Regions from separate parts of the Homo sapiens genome. Here region 2 is linked to region 1. Evidence: fine-mapped expression QTL. A gene starts in region 1. The other region holds a variant in brackets. All regions are shown on one strand. Distances are from middle to middle.

Evidence for each region.
Region 2: its variant is fine-mapped to the expression of TSPAN17 in nasal epithelium (TOPMed, PIP above 0.99).

Annotation. Positions count from the first base shown.
Region 1 is chr5:176,644,305-176,649,667 of GRCh38, forward strand. It overlaps TSPAN17 (tetraspanin 17), which reads left to right and starts at 3,180. Exons shown (of 9, transcript NM_130465.5): 1 at 3,180-3,398. The coding sequence starts at 3,312. It overlaps EIF4E1B (eukaryotic translation initiation factor 4E family member 1B), which reads left to right. Exons shown (of 9, transcript NM_001099408.2): 6 at 72-135; 7 at 826-939; 8 at 1,073-1,212; 9 at 1,562-2,340. The coding sequence ends at 1,676. RefSeq lists enhancers at 1-421, 1,003-1,513, 1,784-2,078, 4,440-5,309 and a silencer at 2,752-3,411.
Region 2 is chr5:176,676,668-176,682,025 of GRCh38, forward strand. No RefSeq gene overlaps it. Among named protein-coding and RNA genes, the nearest start is that of TSPAN17, 32 kb to the left of the region's middle. RefSeq lists enhancers at 3,206-4,166, 4,167-5,126. The variant C/T (reference allele first, on the strand shown) is at 2,948.

The DNA.
Region 1 (5,363 bases):
GGGCTGAACCCAGTTGGAACCAGGCCCTAAAAAGCCTTGACTTTTGGCATGGGGTCGGGGGCTCTGTCCAGGCTATACAGTCACATCCAGCTGGCCAGCAAGCTCTCCTCTGGCTGTGACTACGCCCTCTTCAAGGTAAGCTCTGCTCTCCTCTTTCCCTCCCGCAAAGGGACAAGGGGTTGATCCCTCCCGGACTCCACTGCGTTAATCCCTCAGAGGGGTGGGGGTGGGGAGCTACGGGCCACCTCTCAGCAGAGTTGTGGTTTCTGACTGGAGGAAATGCTCTACAGGAGCCCGGACAGAGTAGGTCAGGCCCAAGCCGCACCTTGGAGGACCTTAAGAGGCGGGAAGAGGGAGAGGGAGAGATTTCTGACCTGGCTCCTTAACTAGGGAAGGGCATCAGAATTGCTTGAGGACACTCATTGATGCCACACCCATCCCTGGAGGGCTGACATTGTGTTTAGAGATCTCCCCAGTGACTTCTGCCCTGCCTGGGAACCATGCAGCCAAGCCTGGGATGTCCCCCTTGCCTGCATTGGGGTCTGCCCCTGAGGCTTCCTTAATCCACCCCGATTTGAATGCTTGTCTTAAGGAACTCAGTAAAAGAGACATGCACATATACAAGGCTATACAAGGTGACCAGTGCTGTCTGTCGGGGGGAGCTGAGTGGCTGGGGGTGGAACCTGCTTGCACTGAGGGAAGGGAGGATAAGAGAATCTGGCCTACTTAGGGCCTCAGCAGAGAGCGGATAAGGCCGGGATGGTGGGTGGGTCCCCATTTCCCTTTGAACACAGGGAGGCAGTTGACTTGCCATCTGCCTTGCAGGATGGCATCCAGCCCATGTGGGAGGACAGCAGGAATAAACGGGGTGGCCGCTGGCTGGTCAGCCTGGCCAAGCAGCAGCGCCACATTGAGCTGGACCGGCTGTGGCTGGAGACGGTGAGTTGGAGGAGGAGGGTCCTCAGGGGAAGAGACGGGCTGTGTGGGTCTCATGGTGGCAGTGGTCTCAAGGATGGCAGGCCAGTCCCTATGTCCCAGCCGGTGATCTCACAACCCCCTACTTCGGGTCCAGCTGCTGTGTCTGATCGGGGAGAGCTTTGAGGAACACAGCAGAGAGGTATGTGGGGCCGTCGTCAACATCCGCACCAAGGGGGACAAGATCGCTGTGTGGACGAGGGAGGCGGAAAACCAGGCGGGCGTGCTGCACGTTGGGTGAGGAGGGTCTCTGGCACAGGGTGGGGACTTGGGTCTCTGCTAGAGGGAAGGTGGGTGGAGGGGGCTTGGCCTGCATGGGAGACCTCTGAAAGTCTCCATAGCCTCCCTCCCTTCTGCCTTGCCCACCTGTATGGAAGGTCTGGCGTTCAGATTTCTAACTTTCTCTTACGGCAGTGCAGCTCTCCTTTTGCATTAAGGGGGTCATATTTTGGGTTTCCACATGGGTAAGACACAACAGGTGTGGCTGTGGCCAGAATGAGGGTAGGAGTCTGGTGGCCTAAGTTATCTCTAGGACCCTCTGATGACTACCTGTGTCTCTTTTCCTCTGTGTCCCCCGCACCTGCAGGCGTGTATACAAAGAGCGCCTGGGCCTCTCCCCAAAGACCATCATTGGGTACCAGGCCCATGCAGACACAGCCACCAAGAGCAACTCCCTAGCCAAGAACAAGTTTGTGGTGTGAGGGGGGCCTTGGCACCCCTCCTATGTAATGGGACAGCCGCCACTGAGCCTCATTACTTTGGGGGATGGGGCGGGACTGGGGATCAGACAGCCTAGTTCTTACCTGTCCTCAAGTGAACAGGAATGCAAACACTCTTTAACATGAGTTGGGGCCTGAGCCTTAGGGGCTAGATGGGGGTAGTGGTGGCAGTCTGAGGACCTAGCTTGTCCTGGGGCCACAGGACAGCAGCAGGGTGGAAAAAACTCCTGAGGGTGGGGTGAGTCATGGCGGGGAAGGAGGGCTCTATGGTAGGCGGAGAAACCCATAGTCCAGCGTTTACTGTTTCCACCCAGGAAGGAGGTGAGGTGGCCTGAGAGACAGACTCTTCCATGGGTGGTGGGCTCAAGGGCACAGACATTCTGGAGGGTGAACGCCATCATTTGTACAGAGGGATACGTGGGTTGCTGAGGACTGAGAGAGCCTTGCAAGGCCGCTCCCCTTCTCCCCAGCTGTGACCAGGGCTGTCTGGGCCTTGCCTGCCTCAGGGCCAGACTGAAGTGGAGGTGGAGGGATGCTGGGCTAGGCCTCACCAAGGTTCTGGTAGAAGTGGTGGAAGTGGATAAACTTGATAATAAAAGCTTAAGCATCTTTCTGTTCCTGTTTTAAATAAATACTTCTGAACAAAGTTGGAATTATTTTTAAGAGGGCTTCAAACTGGAGTAAGATTCAGGTTCCCCCAAACTTTGATCTGCCTCTGTCCTGTCTTACAGGGGCTCATGTGAGATCACTGGGTACCAAGGAGCCTGACCGGGACCCTGGCCAGTATGGAGGACAGGGGGTGTGGCTGGGGAAACTCAGCCACCAAGGGGGCTTGAGCCAGGTTCCGGGGGGCATATGCCCCTGGCAGGGCGCAGCCGGCGTGGCACCAAGGCCCAGGCCCTCGTTTGGCCTGAGTTTGAGTCAGGATAAGTAGAGCTGGATTTCCGCTGGGTGAAGGTGAGCCTGATGCGACTCCACAATGACAAAACGTCCTGCACGTGTTAAAAACTCAATCCGGACCAGCTTCCCCATTCGCCTGCCAGAGCAGCAGTTAACCTTCCCCTGGGATGGGCTCCAACAGCAGGCTGGGGATTGGGATGGCGCTGGTACCCAGCAGGGGAAGCAAGGCTTCTACACCCCGGCGGCCTCCGGCGCCATCAGCCGGCGTCCCGGGCGGGTCTGCAGGACGCTGGGAAACGCGGCGGCGGCCTGCGCGGGGGCGGGGCCTGGCCGAAGGCGGGGCTGCGAGGAGGTCCGAATCAGGCTGTGGGGGCGGAGCTCGGGAAGCGGAGCCAGGTCCAGAGGCGGGGCTCAGGCGGGACTGAGTTGATCTATGGGGGCGGAGCCAGGTCAGGAGGCGGGACTCCAAAGGGACTGAGGGCTGTGGGGGCGGGGCCCGGTCCAGAGGCGGGGACAGCAGGGCTCCGGGCAAGGAGGTCTGGATGCTGAGGGCGGTCCCTGAGGGGCGGGCGGGGCCCGACCGGCGCTCTGTGTGGCCGAGGCCATGAAGCCGCAGCCGCCCGGCTAGGCCCCGGGCGGCTCTAGCCCAGGGCGGCCCGCGGGGCGCTGGGCCTGGCTCCCGGCTCCGGTTTCCGGGCCGGCGGGTGGCCGCTCACCATGCCCGGCAAGCACCAGCATTTCCAGGAACCTGAGGTCGGCTGCTGCGGGAAATACTTCCTGTTTGGCTTCAACATTGTCTTCTGGGTGAGCGCGGGGTCTGCGCCTTGCCCTGTGCTGGGGGGTGGTGGGAGAGGGAGATTCAGTCTTTTGCTGGGGGAGACCACTCCCTGCCCCAAGAGTTTGGAGCTCGGGACCATCCCCCCACTTCTGCCACACCCACGCCCACTTCCAGGACCACCCGAGGTAGCTACAGAGGCCCGGATTGCTGGGGGCGGGTCCTAGCGACAGCGTGGGGTCGGGGTTGGGGTAGGGAGTCTCCCTAAATAATCCCGAGGCCTGGTGGAGAAAGGGAAGGTGTTTCCTTGAAGACCCCAGGGGCGTGCTAGGTGCAGGTTGCCCCCTCTCGCCCAGCCCTCCTTCCTACCCTGGGATGTGGGATGCGTGCCAAGCCCCACCCCTGGTTTAGCCGGTAAGGAGATTCTGGCGTGAAGGGAGCCGCCAGGCCCCTTCCCCGGCCTCCTTTCCCTTCCAGTAGTACCTGGGTCAGGTGCCTCACCTTAGGCTCCTGCAGAGTGGGGTGGGTCACAGTCCTCTGCCCACCCCAGTCCCGCACAAGGAGGCTGACCTGCCAGGAGGGGCAGGGAGGGACAATGGCGAGTCCTTGGCGGCTGGGAGAGGATCTCCCCGGTTGAGAGCCTGGGAGCTGGCCTTGGGGAACAGAATTCAACATTCCACAGCTGACAAGCTGAGGCTCCTGGGCGGGTCTGCCCCTACCGGGGAAGGGAGCTACTAGTGCCCCTCCCAGGGTGGCATCTGTCCCCCTGGGCCCTGCCAGGTCATTTTTCCCATCTCTCCAAAGCCGTGGCCCTCTGCAGTCTCTGCTCCTGAGGCCTTGGGTCAAGATGCCAGGCCTTTTCCCTTGTGTTCAGCAAGACTCAGTGGCACTGCCCCCCACCCACGTGTCACCGAGCTCACTGGTGTGGTGGGTGTCCTTGCACTGCAGCGCTAGGCTCTTGAGGGTGTGGGCAGTGTGTGGGAGCACTGGCAAAGAAGTCAGAAGGCCTGGCTGTAGCAGGCCTGGCTGGGACACCTTGGGCAAGTCATCTCTCCTCTCCGGGCCTCAGCTTGCCTGCCTGGGAGACGACGATAAAGAATCTGCCTGTGAGGGCTGTTAGGCAGATACAATGAGTTCAATTTGTTGTATTCTCACAACTGCCTTATTATCTGCATTTTACAGATGGGGAAACTGAAGGAATAGACACAGAGAAATTAAGTCACTTACCTAGGGTCACACAGCCAGAAAGTACAGAGCCAAGGTGACGGCTTAGTGGGCAGAGGGTGGAGGTGAGGCAGAGCTGTGAGCAGAAGTAACCTCAAATACCGAGGGGGAGCAGGCGTGAGAGACCCGGGTTTGTTGCTGGGGCGGAGCGTGGGGTGTTATGTTAAGGTGGCATGGAGAAGCGAGGGCTTCCAGTGATGGGTCTGATCTGGCTTCTGTTCTGGAGACCGCTTGCCTGGCTGCTGTGTGGAGGGTGGATGAGGGGCAGGGCCTGGAGGTTTGGAATGGGGGCAGGGCTGGGGCAAAGCTGGGATGGTGAGGTGGGAAAGGTGAGGGAGGTTGCTGGGAAAGTCAAGAGGCTGAATTGACTGGGCTGGGTCACTTGGGGGCTGGAGGGAGGATTTCAGATTTGGGTTAAGGTGGCCTAAGGGAGGCTGCTTGTGGAACAGGCACAGAGGTTTTCATGTTTAATGTCAGGCAGACCCTGGTGTTGTTCTGTTTGGAAACTGCTTGTGGTTTCCTTTTTTCTTTTTTCTTTTTTTTTTTTGAGACAGAGTTTTGCTCTTGTTGCCCAGGCTGGAGTGCAATGGCACGATCTCGGTTCACTGCAACCTCCGTCTCCCAGGTTCAAGCGATTCTCCTGCCTCAGCCTCCCAAGTAGCTGGGACTATAGGTGTGTGCCACCACGCCTGGCTAATTTTGTATTTTTACTAGAGATGGGGTTTCTTCATGTTGGTCAGGCTGGTCTCGAACTCCTGACCTCAGGTGAT
Region 2 (5,358 bases), 32 kb after region 1:
TTGAGCTGGGAGCCCTTCGAGGGACTCCTGCTTGCATTAAACCTATACCAGTGCTTTCTGAGTTTCACTCTCCCCCCTGGGGTGTGATGATGATACCGCCCATCCCTGAGGGGCCTGTGACAAACGCTACCCCTTTATACATCCTGGCTCTGATATGAACAGCCTTTTTCTTGGGTCCCTGAACACACTTTGTCACTGCTGGGGCTTAACAAAGCCTTCCTGAACGCCCAGGAGAGCAGCAGGGACCTAACAGAGGACTCCAGAGGCTCAGACCCAGCCCCGCACGGCTCCTCCACCCCAAATTCAGCCCCGGGGTCTTGTTCACCAACTGCTGGGTCAGAGGTCCTGATTTCCATGTCTACTTGCTGCTGGGTGACAGGGCAGCTTTCCCTGGCCCCTGCCAGGGGGTCCCCAACCAGGCATCTCACTGATTTCATGGACCTGCCCCAGAGAGGGGCACCCAGTTCTGTAGTACCCATCCCCCCAGGGCTGCCCCCACTTCCAGTTTTCCAGGGGGTAGCACTGTGATGTCACCCCTAGTGAGGGCCGTTTTGTTCCTGTCACACTCCCCACTACCACAACAACTAGGCCCTATCCTTGAGGGATGCAGGCTGCACAGAGAAGCAGAGAAACAAGAGAAGGGAAACCTTAGCTGTGGAGCTTCCAAAGTCCAGGTCCTACCACATGCAGTACATTTGGAACGCTCTCTGCACAGCATGTGTCTCCCCCTCAGCATGGACAGATGAGGTTAAACATTGTCTAGCTGTGGAGGACAGAAGAATATAAGGAACTAAGGGAGAGGGCTCTCCTGGGCTGGGTGGGGGTACGCCTGGGGAAGGATAAGCCCCCAGGGGCAGCTGCAGCTCTGATCTCGGGATTGGTGGGGCTGAACCTCATTTCCTGGGAGGGGCAAGGTCCCCAGGTGCCCTGTGCCCTGAGAAGGCCAGGAGACTCTAGACAGGGAGTGAGCGGTGGTGGCTCAACAGAGGGCCTGTGACAGCCCAGCGAGCTCCCCAGCCCCAGTGCCCTGTAGGGAGCGGCCAAGTTCTCAAGGAGGGCCTGGAAGGGAGTCCCAGTTGTGACAAGAGGAGGCCACAGCCAAAACTTGCTTGGCCCTTACAAGCAGAGACCAGATGGGGACGCAGACAGCTCATCGGCTGCCAACTCGGAACAGAGATGACAGCCAAGAACCACATGTCCCAGTGTATGTCTTGGGGGTGCCAGCAGGGATGACATCGACCGATGACCCATCTGCCACCTCCCCTGATGTTTATGATGTCACCCATATTTGCTGGGATCTGTGGGGTCCAAGAGATGGGGGAGGGGGCCCTGAATCTTCTGAGTTGAAGCTGACAGAGCTGAACTGAACTCAAGACTTTTCTGCTACTCAGTAGAAAACGGAGGTTGGAAAGGAAGCATGCATATAGTAGGAAAGTAAGGTGGTGGTTTTGGCACACCTGCGTGAGTGGCCTGAACATTCACACCCACAATCCAGGGCTGAATGAGGGACAGTGAATGCAGCCTTTGGTGGGGTGGCTCTTCCTCCCCGTCCCTGGTCATGTGATGGGCACTGGTGTGTACCTGAGCATTTCCTCCTCGCTCTCCCTCCTGGGGGTAGGTGTCAGGGGAACAGAGAGGGCTGGGTGAGTGGTGAACACAGCCATCTATCTTCCTGCTCCCCAAGTCCCCCTTTGGTGAGGATGTTGCCAGGAGCAGGCAAGAGCTGGGAGGGCAGGTAGTGATGACTAGGAAGGAAAGAGGCAGTCCCGGGTGCCTGGGTGACCTGGTGGCCAGAGGAGAGGGAGAGGCCTGGAGGAGGCTGGGACAGAGGAAGGCTCAGAGGAGGCACTGGGCGGTGGTCAGCAGACTTAAGAGCCAGAATCCACTTCCGGTTCCTGGGCATATTCCCTAAGCAATCGGAGCCTCCGGTCCTCACCCCAAACAAGGTGGGCTCCACATGTCTGCCTGGCCCACATCTTTCTCCTTCCTGGTTCTCACTTGGGAAACCTTCATCTCCCAGTAGTTTAGGCAGTGCTGACCCTGGCCTCTGGCTTCAGGCCTGGCCAATGGGGCTATATTCTTGCACCCTTGTTGGAACTGTTGGCCGAGGGAAGCTGGCTGTCTGCCAAGATGGCTGAGCTGAGCAGTGAGCGCCCGTGGGCCCCTCCTTGCTGATCTCCCCAAGCTGGGCCCAGGCCCCTGCCAGGCCCTTTGCACCTGCTGCTCACTTCCCTGGGGTGCCTTCTCCTCTGACCTTCACCTTCAGCTCCTCTCATCTGAGGCTCAGCCCAGTGGCCCTACTCAGAGAGGCCAACTTGGCTCCCTTTAAAGCAGTCCCCAGTCCTGTCCCAGGGCCTTCCCTATGTCTGCGTTTCTTCCCAGCACTCACCACCATCCGAGATGAGCTCCTGAGCTACTTTAACTGACCATCTCCTCCTCTGATATCAGCCGCCAAGAGCAGGGACCTTGTTGCGCTCCTTCCCAAGCCAGGGCCCAGCACAGAGCAGAGGCTCAGCAGTCCCTGCCTGGACACCGAATGCTACTGAGAACTCTGTGCCTGGTGTGGGGCAGAGTCTCCAAGGTCACAAACCCATCTTGGGGGTGCAAAATCCCTGCTAAGGTTTTCTAAAACAAAACTTAATTTCTGTCTTGAGTCCCCATTAGAGTAAATTCAGGATAAATTTGGCCCATTTTGGGGTGTTCTTGGTCCATTTGTGGTTGCACTCAGGTGGAGGAGGGACCCAGGAAGGGTCAAGGCCTCGAGTGGGGCCAAACTCCCCAGACATCTGTGTGACCTCAACGCTGCACCCACAACCCAGGGGTCTCTGCCTTCCACACTGGCTCCACATAGTCCTCCGTCCTGCCTGGTACAGGATCCATCCCTGCCGCATGCCCCTCTTAGACCACCAGGGTCCCCCGTCACGTCCCAGGACCAATCTGGTGACCC[C/T]TCTGCTTCAAGACATACATTCTGCCTCAGTGGGGGCACATGGGGACTCTAAGTTACCCCCATCCATTCTGTCCAGGCCCCTCCCACAGGAGTTAGGAGGGGCTGTCTTGGTGGCTGGTGACCTGATGAGTGGGTGTCTCCGTGGGCCCCACTGCTCCCCTCCGAACATCCCCCTGCCTGGGATCCCCAGACTCCTTACAGGGCCAGGCTAGCTCCTCTCCCTGTCACCCTGGGGCTCTGCCAGCTACCAGGCAGGAGGCTGTCAACACCGGGAGGAGGACATATCCGAGGCATCTCGGACGCCAAGCGTGAGTGAGCAAGGCTCGTCCTGCTAAGGGTCTGGGGACGTGACTGGGTGTGCAGAGGAAGAGAGAGGCCAGGCTCAGGCTTCATCTTGTTTAATCCGTGGAGGACCTAGGGGATCCCTGTTTAGACCCCTGCAGGCTGCAGTGCCGCTCTGCTCCGGCCTTAGCGCCTCCCCGCAGCTCAGAGGATGGGACTGGGGTCCAGCTCCCTGCCCGCCCCGCACCCCGTACCCCGCAGCCTGTCCGTCCATCCGCCCCGCTTCACTTCGCTGTCCCCTGTCGGGGTTCGAGTCGCAGCCTCCAGCCTCAACCCGCACCTCCCGCCCTGCAGCTCAACTCTCGCCTCCGCTGCAATTTATTACTGGAGGCCGCAGAACCAGCGGCGTGGAGTGCGCCTCCCGGGAGCCGCCGCTGTCGGAGAAAGGCACCCACCCGCCTGGGCCGGCTCCCGGGCGCGGGGCGGTGTCTCAGGGAGGCGTCTCAGCCGAGCTGCAGGGCGAGGGGAGCGAGCCGGGTCCCGGGGGAAGGCATCCGGTCAGGGCCTCGCCCACCCGGATGGCTCCTGCGCCACGGGGCCTGAGCTCCGCCTTTGGGATCCGCGAGGATTGGAGACTGGGGACCCGGCAGCAGAGGGTCCAGGCAGAAAAGCTCCGTGTGGCCCCCAGGGAGGGTGGATTTAAAGAAAACCAGTCACATTAAAAAGCCAGGGTTCATGGAAATACTTGGACTGCTGGCTTCTCCTGAAAAACGGGCAGTCGACACCGGGTGGCCTTCCACAAGGCAAACCTGGGGGGCAGCCCCGTTTAGAAGGCCCGGCTGCCCTCTTCAGTCACCCAGCGCCTCGCCAGACCCCAGGGGACATTGGGGCTTGAGACCCCTGCTCTGCGTGGGGCACAGCAGAGGCCAAGGGAGACTGTGGCCCAGCTGTTCCACGGGCTTCTGGAGGCCAAGGACTCTCTCTTTTTGTTTTTATCTTTGTATATTACTCTGGTACATAAAGGCTGGCATATAAAAGTGTTGAATAAATAAATTTTCAATGAACAGCTGAATGAATGATGATGGTGATGAATGAATGAATGGATGGTGATGACTACCCAGAATTATAATCAAGTGGATGAGACTCAACCACTTGAAAAGGTGAGTCCACATTGCAGGCCAAGGAAGCAGAGGTGCAGAAGCTGGGGGCCCCTGAAGGAGTCCAGGGCACTTGGGGTGGAGTGGGGACCAGGGCAGCGTGGCTGCCCAGGGGTGGCAGGAAGGCCAGGCTGAGGGGCTGGAATTTGAGCTTCCTGGCTGCTTTACTATCCAGTCACCTGAGCTTTAAACACCCCAAGTCTGGGGCCACCCTCCAGGCCCAGGAAATCAGACTCTTCACCGGTGGGTGGGGCAATCTGTGCTTTAAAAATGTTGCCGGTTGGGCGCGGTGGCTCACGCCTGTAATCCCAGCACTTTGGGAGGCGGAGGCGGGCGGATCACGAGGTCAGGAGATGGAGACCAGCCTGGCCAACATGGTGAAACCCAGTCTCTACTAAAAATACAAAAATTAGCCGGACAGGGTGGCGCGCGCCTGTAATCCCAGCTGCTAGGGAGGCTGAGGCAGGAGAATCGCTTGAACCCGGGAGGCGGAGCTTGCAGTGAGCCGAGGTCGTGCCACTGCACTCCAGCCTGGCGACAGAGACAAACTCCGTCTCAAAAAAAACCAAAAAAGTTCTCCCAGGAGATTTTGGAGCCCCCAAAAGCTGCATGGCGGGGAAGTGATTATCTGCCACGGGTCTGCTGCTGCATCCATCCCTCTTCCTGTCCCGCCTCCCAGGGCCGGGTGTCTTTCTAAAGCCACGGGTCACCTTTCTGAGTGGTGGTCAGGCCCTGGGGGTCCATCTTAGCCACTCACCGTATTTTAAGTAAGTTTTAGAGGGAAGGAAAAGTATGAAATGACTGTGTTTGTTTTGCCCAAGCAAATCCATTTATAAAGTGCAGCACTTGTTTAAGAAAAAAACAACAGCTATTGACAAAATATAAGAAAATAAATTAAAGCCGCAGCTTCTTAAAAGGACCCTGTCCGATAATTTGATTTTTTCCCCCTTCTTCCCTCAAAGGCCAGAACGA